Linked DNA regions of Homo sapiens: region 2 is reported to be linked to region 1. Evidence: microRNA targets listed by miRTarBase, many of them from high-throughput screens and not tested one by one. Region 1 holds a microRNA gene; the other region holds the end of a gene's coding sequence.
Evidence for each region. Region 1 holds the annotated microRNA hsa-miR-8073 (ACCUGGCAGCAGGGAGCGUCGU, at 1,703-1,724, shown strand). A microRNA usually pairs through its seed, bases 2 to 8, with sites in the 3' UTR of a target mRNA and lowers its output. Matches are read on the target gene's strand: a 7mer-m8 pairs with bases 2 to 8, a 7mer-A1 pairs with bases 2 to 7 and ends in A, and an 8mer does both.

Region 2: the mRNA of ZNF556 is a reported target of hsa-miR-8073. The part of its 3' UTR that is shown has no 7-base or 8-base seed match.

The regions. Positions count from the first base shown.
Region 1 is chr13:110,339,266-110,342,565 of GRCh38, forward strand. It overlaps MIR8073 (microRNA 8073), which reads left to right and starts at 1,693; the gene lies at 1,693-1,764. All of the region lies in intron 3 of COL4A2 (collagen type IV alpha 2 chain), which reads left to right. RefSeq lists a silencer at 1,797-1,866 and an enhancer at 2,938-3,300.
Region 2 is chr19:2,877,653-2,880,952 of GRCh38, forward strand. ZNF556 (zinc finger protein 556) reads left to right here. Exons shown (of 4, transcript NM_024967.3): 4 at 1-3,300. The coding sequence ends at 677. Among named protein-coding and RNA genes, the nearest start is that of ZNF556, 12 kb to the left of the region's middle.

The DNA.
Region 1 (3,300 bases):
GATGGACAGTAGGTGTGGGAGGGGCAGCATGTTATCACAATAGCATCGTGATGAGATTCCTGGATGGAGGGAATCACTGGTGCTTGCATATTTGGGGCTTCATCTTAGGGAAGTTCCCTAAAATCTCTGTAGCACCCAGTTTTCGTGGGAAGAATGTCGTGGGAGCAGGGGCTTCCCTGACCTTGGAAGCCTGGCCGGTCAGTCTCAAACGAGTTTACTGCCTCCGACCCAATTGTGAGGACTGAGCCAGAGGGAGTGCATGTCAGCCTCAGCCTCCAGCAGCACAGCCCCTTTCTCTACAAGCCTCAGATATAGGGGAAAAAAAACAAAAACAGAGTCAAAAGTAGGTCTTCATTAATAAAAGACTGGGATCTCCCAGAATTAATCATCTTGCTCATCTTTTCCAGTTCTGGAAATCTGATCTTTGAACCTGGTATCCTCAGTCTTAGCACAATACCTGGGACCATAATAGATGCTCAGTAAACTTGGTGGGAGGAAAAAATCAAAGAAGGAGTCAAAATAGAGGTGCTCGGTGCCGAGGAGTTGCTAACCTGGACCATCCAAATAATGACAGTCTGTGGCACTTCAGAAGCATTCCAGAAATGGAACAATGGCACTCCATGAAGCTGTATAAACTCATAATGTATCCTGTAACTAACCCAGTATAGAACAGTAACACTGTTTACACTGATTGGAAGGAAGAAGGTTCATCCTGGCGGTTTATGACATTGCCAGAATGGCTTGAATCCTTGAGGGTGGGTGACAGGTAGAGTGGATAATAAATGGGCCTCCTGGTTCACAGAGCCTGAGAACCTCTCACCCAATGGGCACCTGGTGCCCCTGCAGAGTCCAGTCTAAGAGGACAATTTTTTTTTTCAGATGTAGTCTTGTTCTGTTGCCCAGGTTGGAGTGCCTGATCTCAGCTCACTGCAGCCTCCGCCTCCTGGGTTCAAGCAGTTCCCTGCCTCAGCCTCCCTGGTAGCTGAGATTATAGGTGCACGCCACCACACCCGGCTAATTTTTGTATTTTTAGTAGAGATGCGGTTTCACCATCTTGGCCAGGCTGGTGTTGACGTCCTGACCTCGTGAGCCACCGCGCCCAGCCAAGGACAATTTACTCTAGCCACAGATATGGCCATGGTCCTCATGTAAGCTGACTACAAATACAGCAAATCCACCTTTCCAAAGACTTCATTCTAAAGATGTAAAAGAACAAAAAGAGATAAAGGAAGAGGATGAGAAGACTTGAGAAGAGTGGAAGTGTAGAAAGAAAATGTTTAAGGTTCATCCCCTCCCCACCTTGGGGAGTTCCTTTGGCAGCATCTTCTGAAGGGTACTTCTCCTAGCCCAGGGGCAGAAAGATCCAGTCTTTTGGGGCAGCTGCGGAAGAAAGGAGAGCAGTCCTGTAGCTCATGAAGACATTACGAAGCACAAAGAACTGCACAGGGACAGAGAGTCTTTAGGGTCTCGAGCTCACTCTATGTCCTTGGCTGTTAAGTTCCCCGAGAGCAAACCCCAGCTTCTCGCTTGCTTCAGGCTCTGCATGTGTGAGTGTGACCCTTGGGTACTCTCGGGGCGTTTTCAGCCATGCGATTCTGGGGACTTCAGAGGACTCTGTTCCTTTCTGACTCGTGTTCCGGCGTCTGTGGATTGCTCCCAACAGGAGGAGGAGTATTGTCTATTAAGGGAAAAGATTTCAGTGACCTGGCAGCAGGGAGCGTCGTCAGTGTTTGACTGTTTATGGTATGTCAGGGAGCTGGTTCCTGGCAGTGGCTTCCCCAGGGGTGGGGAGGGGTGTGCTGGGGGTGACAGGAAGCACTGAATCACGACAGAGAAGGGAAAGAAGCCCGCCCGCCACTTCCGGTGTTCACTGAGCAGGTCGGTGGCCAGCGCTGCCTTCGCATCAGAACCCCATTTTAAAACACATCCAAGCGCGTGGCGTCATCGGGACGACGGGCTTCTCCCCAGTAGAGTGTCAGACCAACACCGCCCTGCACAAAGCTCTGTGTTCCCTGCTTTCTGTCATGTTCCCACCCATAGCCAGAAATCCCAGCTGCTGGCCGTCCAGCCCCTATGGAGCAGTGACTAAGGGTGGCTGTGGGACTCACTCACGAGCCTTAGGTTGGGTGTACATAGTTTGTGGCTGATTAGGTGTTGTTAAGGATTTACTGTTCAGGGCTGTTGATTTCTGCCACTGGCTTGTCTTCTCCCAAGGACAAGGGGCCTGCCTATTGGCTTTTAGATCTTAGCACTTAGCAGACTCTCAGAAGTGTTTGCTAGAGGACGTTTTCTGGGGAATGTCCACCTGCACTGATGAAAACAACTCAGTAACAACTCCACTTTGAGAGGAGCAGAGCAGGAGCCTTCCTTAGGTGTGCGTAAGGGGATACCGGCTTTAAAGACGCCAGGCTGAGTTGCTGTGTCAGGATTGATTCTTTACTTCTCCATCTGGAGGTGTTTCTGCTTTATCAGTTTCTCCTTGTTTCCAGCTCTGTCTCGCTGCCAGAGGGCCGACGTTTCCTGGCTTTTGTTGTACTGTGGCACACAGTCTGTTTTGAAAGGACAGGAGCATAATAAAAGCGGATATGAAAGAAGGGCCAGATGACATCACATAGAATACTGGAGGAAGTCCGCGTTTGTGGATGTTTATAATCTCAGCATGTTAGTTGTTTGTAATATGATAAGAGCACTTTTGATACATAGGAGGACTACAAGCCTTGTTGCTTAGACAGGACTCACGAATTTTTATCTTAGGCTCATAGTGACGAACAGAGAATGGGGATCTTGGCCTGGATCCCAAGTGACCCTGGCTCATTGGTTGACCTCGGGTACAAGATTCGGCATAGATGAGCCATTTAAATTGTGCCTAAGCCAGCTACTCATTGAATTTTTTAAAAGAAAGAGAGAGATAGAATAAAGAAAGCTAAGAATTTGACTTATTAGAGATGAATTAGCTTACTAAATTTTTTCCTTTTGAAATCTTACTTCAGAGAAATTGATGGTACCTAGAACTTAACATTAAATCAAGTAAGACCCTTTTAAGGTGAATTCTGGAAGCCATATAGAGTCAGCATTATATGCATGCTTACTCAGTGAAAATCCTAAAGCATGCAAGTGTCTCCATAAAGAGCAATCTCCTTGAACAATAACAGTGTTGACACCTGCTGTTCCCCAGGTCTGTATCGTGAGATGGAAATACACCAGCATCTTCCCCCACTAGGGGAAGATGATAAAATGCAGGTTAAGAACATGGACCATGGATGCTGGGTACTTCCTGCCGGGAGCCGGGCACTATCCTCA
Region 2 (3,300 bases), not on the chromosome of region 1:
AATGTGGGCAGTGTGGGAAAGGCTTCAGTTGTCCCAAATCCTTTCGCGCACATGTGATGATGCACGCCGGAGGGAGACCGTATGAGTGCAAGCACTGTGGGAAAGCCTTCAGGTGTCAGAAATCCTTTCGAGTCCATATGATCATGCACGCCGGAGGGAGACCGTATGAGTGCAAGCAGTGTGGGAAAGCCTACTGCTGGGCAACATCCTTTCAACGACACGTGAGAATTCACAACGGGGAGAAACCCTATAAGTGTGGAAAATGCGGGAAAGCATTCGGTTGGCCCTCATCCTTACACAAACACGCGAGAACGCATGCTAAAAAGAAACCTGTGAGTGGGGGCAGCGTGGGAAAGTCTTCCGCGAGGCCTCGCCCCTCCACAGATGTCAAATCACAAACTAGAGAGAAAGTCTATAAATGTGAAACGTGTGGGAAAACGTATGGTTGGTCCTCATCTTTACACAAACATGAGAGAAAGCACACTGGGGAGAAACCTGTAAATGCAGCCAGTGTGGGAAAACCTTCAGGCGGGCTTTGCTCTTCCAAAAATGTAAGAACGCAGATTGGACAGAAGCCCAGTAAATGCGAAAAATGTGGGAAAGCTTTCAGTTGTCCCAAAGCCTTTCAAGGTCATGTGAGAAGTCACACAGGAAAGAAATCCTGTACATCTAAGTAATGGGGGAAAACCTGTGCAAATTAATTCACATACATGGTTCAGAAAATTCACAGCAGGAGGGCCGGGCGCAGTGGCTCACGCCTGTAATCCCAGCACTTTGGGAGGCCGAGGCAGGCGGATCACGAGGTCAGGAGATCAAGACCATCCTGGCTATGGTGAAACCCCGTCTCTACTAAAAAAAAAAAAAATACAAAAAATTAGCCGGGCGTGGTGGCGGGCACCTGTAGTCCCAGCTGCTCAGGAGGCTGAGGCAGGAGAACGGCGTGAACCCGGGAGGCGGAGCTTGCAGTGAGCCGAGATGGCACCACTGCACTCCAGCCTGGGTGACAGAGCGAGACTCCATCTCCAAAAAAAGAAAATTCATGGCAGGAGAAGAATCTCATGACGTTTATAAATATGGTATTGCCTTTATCAGGACCACATCCTAAAAGTGGGCCTCTAGCAAATGAATTTGCAGTTCTCTTGCAGGTAAAGTTGAGGGGAGAATCCTGTAAGTCCTCTCTCACCTATAGTACTGAAATTTTGATACATAATGGTTTTTTCTTATAAATTACTAATGTTTCTCTTTTCATTTAGAAGTGTATTGCACCCATGGGTGATCTGATGTATTTTAATATGCATTAACTTTAATTTTTATATATTTTTTTTGTTACTCCGTGTGAGGCCATTAGACCAATGAAATATGGGTGTTTGTTGACATTTTCTGACTGGCCCTGTGTGTTCCAAGCTGGATATTACTACCATGTTACTTTTATTCCACCTTTCCATTTTACAGGGAAAAACTATTTTTAATGTTAATACTTTCTACTTATACAGGCAAGTAATTCAGTGGCTTTATGCTATTGGTCAGAGAATCCTTCTTCATTTTGCTTGTGGACTAATAGGTAGTTGGTAGAAATACGTATGCATGCAAATTCTTGGAGGAGTGTAGTCTCGTGGGAACTATTTTTTTCATCTGTTGCTGTTTGCTCTTTGACCTGGCTTCTGGGTTGGAATTGGAAAATAGGTTTTTTTGGGTTTTTTTTCTTTTTCTTTTTTGAGACAGAGTCCTGTTATGTTGCCCAAGCTGGAGTGCAACGGCACGATCTCGGCTCACTGCAACTTCCGCCTCCCGGTTTCAAGCGATTCTCCTGCCTCAGCCTCCCAAGTAGCTGGGACTATAGGCATGCACCACCATGTCCAGCTAATTTTTGTATTTTTAGTAGAGACGGGGTTTCACCATGTTGGCCAGGGTGGTCTCAAACTCCTGAAATCTGCCCGCCTTGGCCTCCCAAAGTGCTGGGATTACAGGTGTGAGCCACTATGCCTGGCCATATTATCATTATCTTAATACCTCATTGTCTCAGTATTTCTTGTGCTTCTGTGTTCCTGCTTCCATGACAGATACAATGGTACAACCATAAAAACACAGGGGATTGCGGCTGGGCGCGGTGACTCACGCCTGTAATCCCAGCACTTTGGGAGGCTGAGGTGGGCGGATCACGAGGTCAGGAAATCGAGACCATCCTGGCTATCATGGTGAAACCCCGTCTCTACTAAAAATACAAAAAATTAGCCAGGTGTGGTGGCGGGCGCCTGTAGTCCCAGCTACTCGGGAGGCTGAGGCAGGAGGATGGCGTGAACCTGGGAGGCGAAGCTTGCAGTGAGCTGGAATCGTGCCACTGTACTCCAGCCTGGGCGAAAGAGCGAGACTCTGTCTCAAAAATAAATAAATAAAGAATAATTTTTTAAAAAAGCACAGGGGATTGTTTCCCTACTGCATCTACTGTGACCTAGTATTCTTCGTGAGATAAATCTTACCTTTCATGAGAAAATGAAAGACAATACTGGCTTATCAGGTAAACTCTGGAAATTTCCTGTCACATAGAGCTGAATACAATCTCTCAGTATGTGTTCAGTTATTATGTTTGATTATGTATTATTAAAACAAAAGTTTCTGTTTCTGAGAAATATCTATTTACTGTGTTTGTGTTTTTAAAGAAGTTGGATTCTATACAAATGGATAAAATGTTTCTTAGAAATAGCCTATTTAACTGAGTTTTTCAAATAAGTTGTATACTAACAAATGTCAATCTCTGTTTTTTATTTACTGGGAGAATGTATTAAAATATTGAAAATTGCCAAATCAACATGGTGACTTTAAAAATGATACTTCTGGGCCAGGCACAGTGGCTCACGCCTGTAATCCCAGCACTTTGGGGAGGCCAAGGCGGGCAGATCATGAGGTCAAGAGATCGAGACCATCCTGGCTAACACGGTGAAACCCCATCTCTACTAAAAATACAAAATATTAGTGGGGTGTGCTGGTAGGTGCCTGTAGTCCCAGCTACTCGGGAGGCTGAGGAAGGAGAATGGCTTGAACCTGGGAGGCGGAGCTTGCCAAGATTGCGACACTGCACTCCAGCCTGGGTGACAGAGCGAGACTCCGTCTCAAAAAAAAGAATTATACTTCTGAATTAATATTACCAGATGCATTCAGATTTAGACATTTTCTTTCTAGTACATTTGTTTCCTATACTGTTATAATTTTGTCTAAGAAATTCTTTTTTTTTTTTTTGAGACAGATTCTCGCTCTGTTACCCAGGCTGGAGTGCAGTGCCGTGATCTTGGCTCACTGCAACCC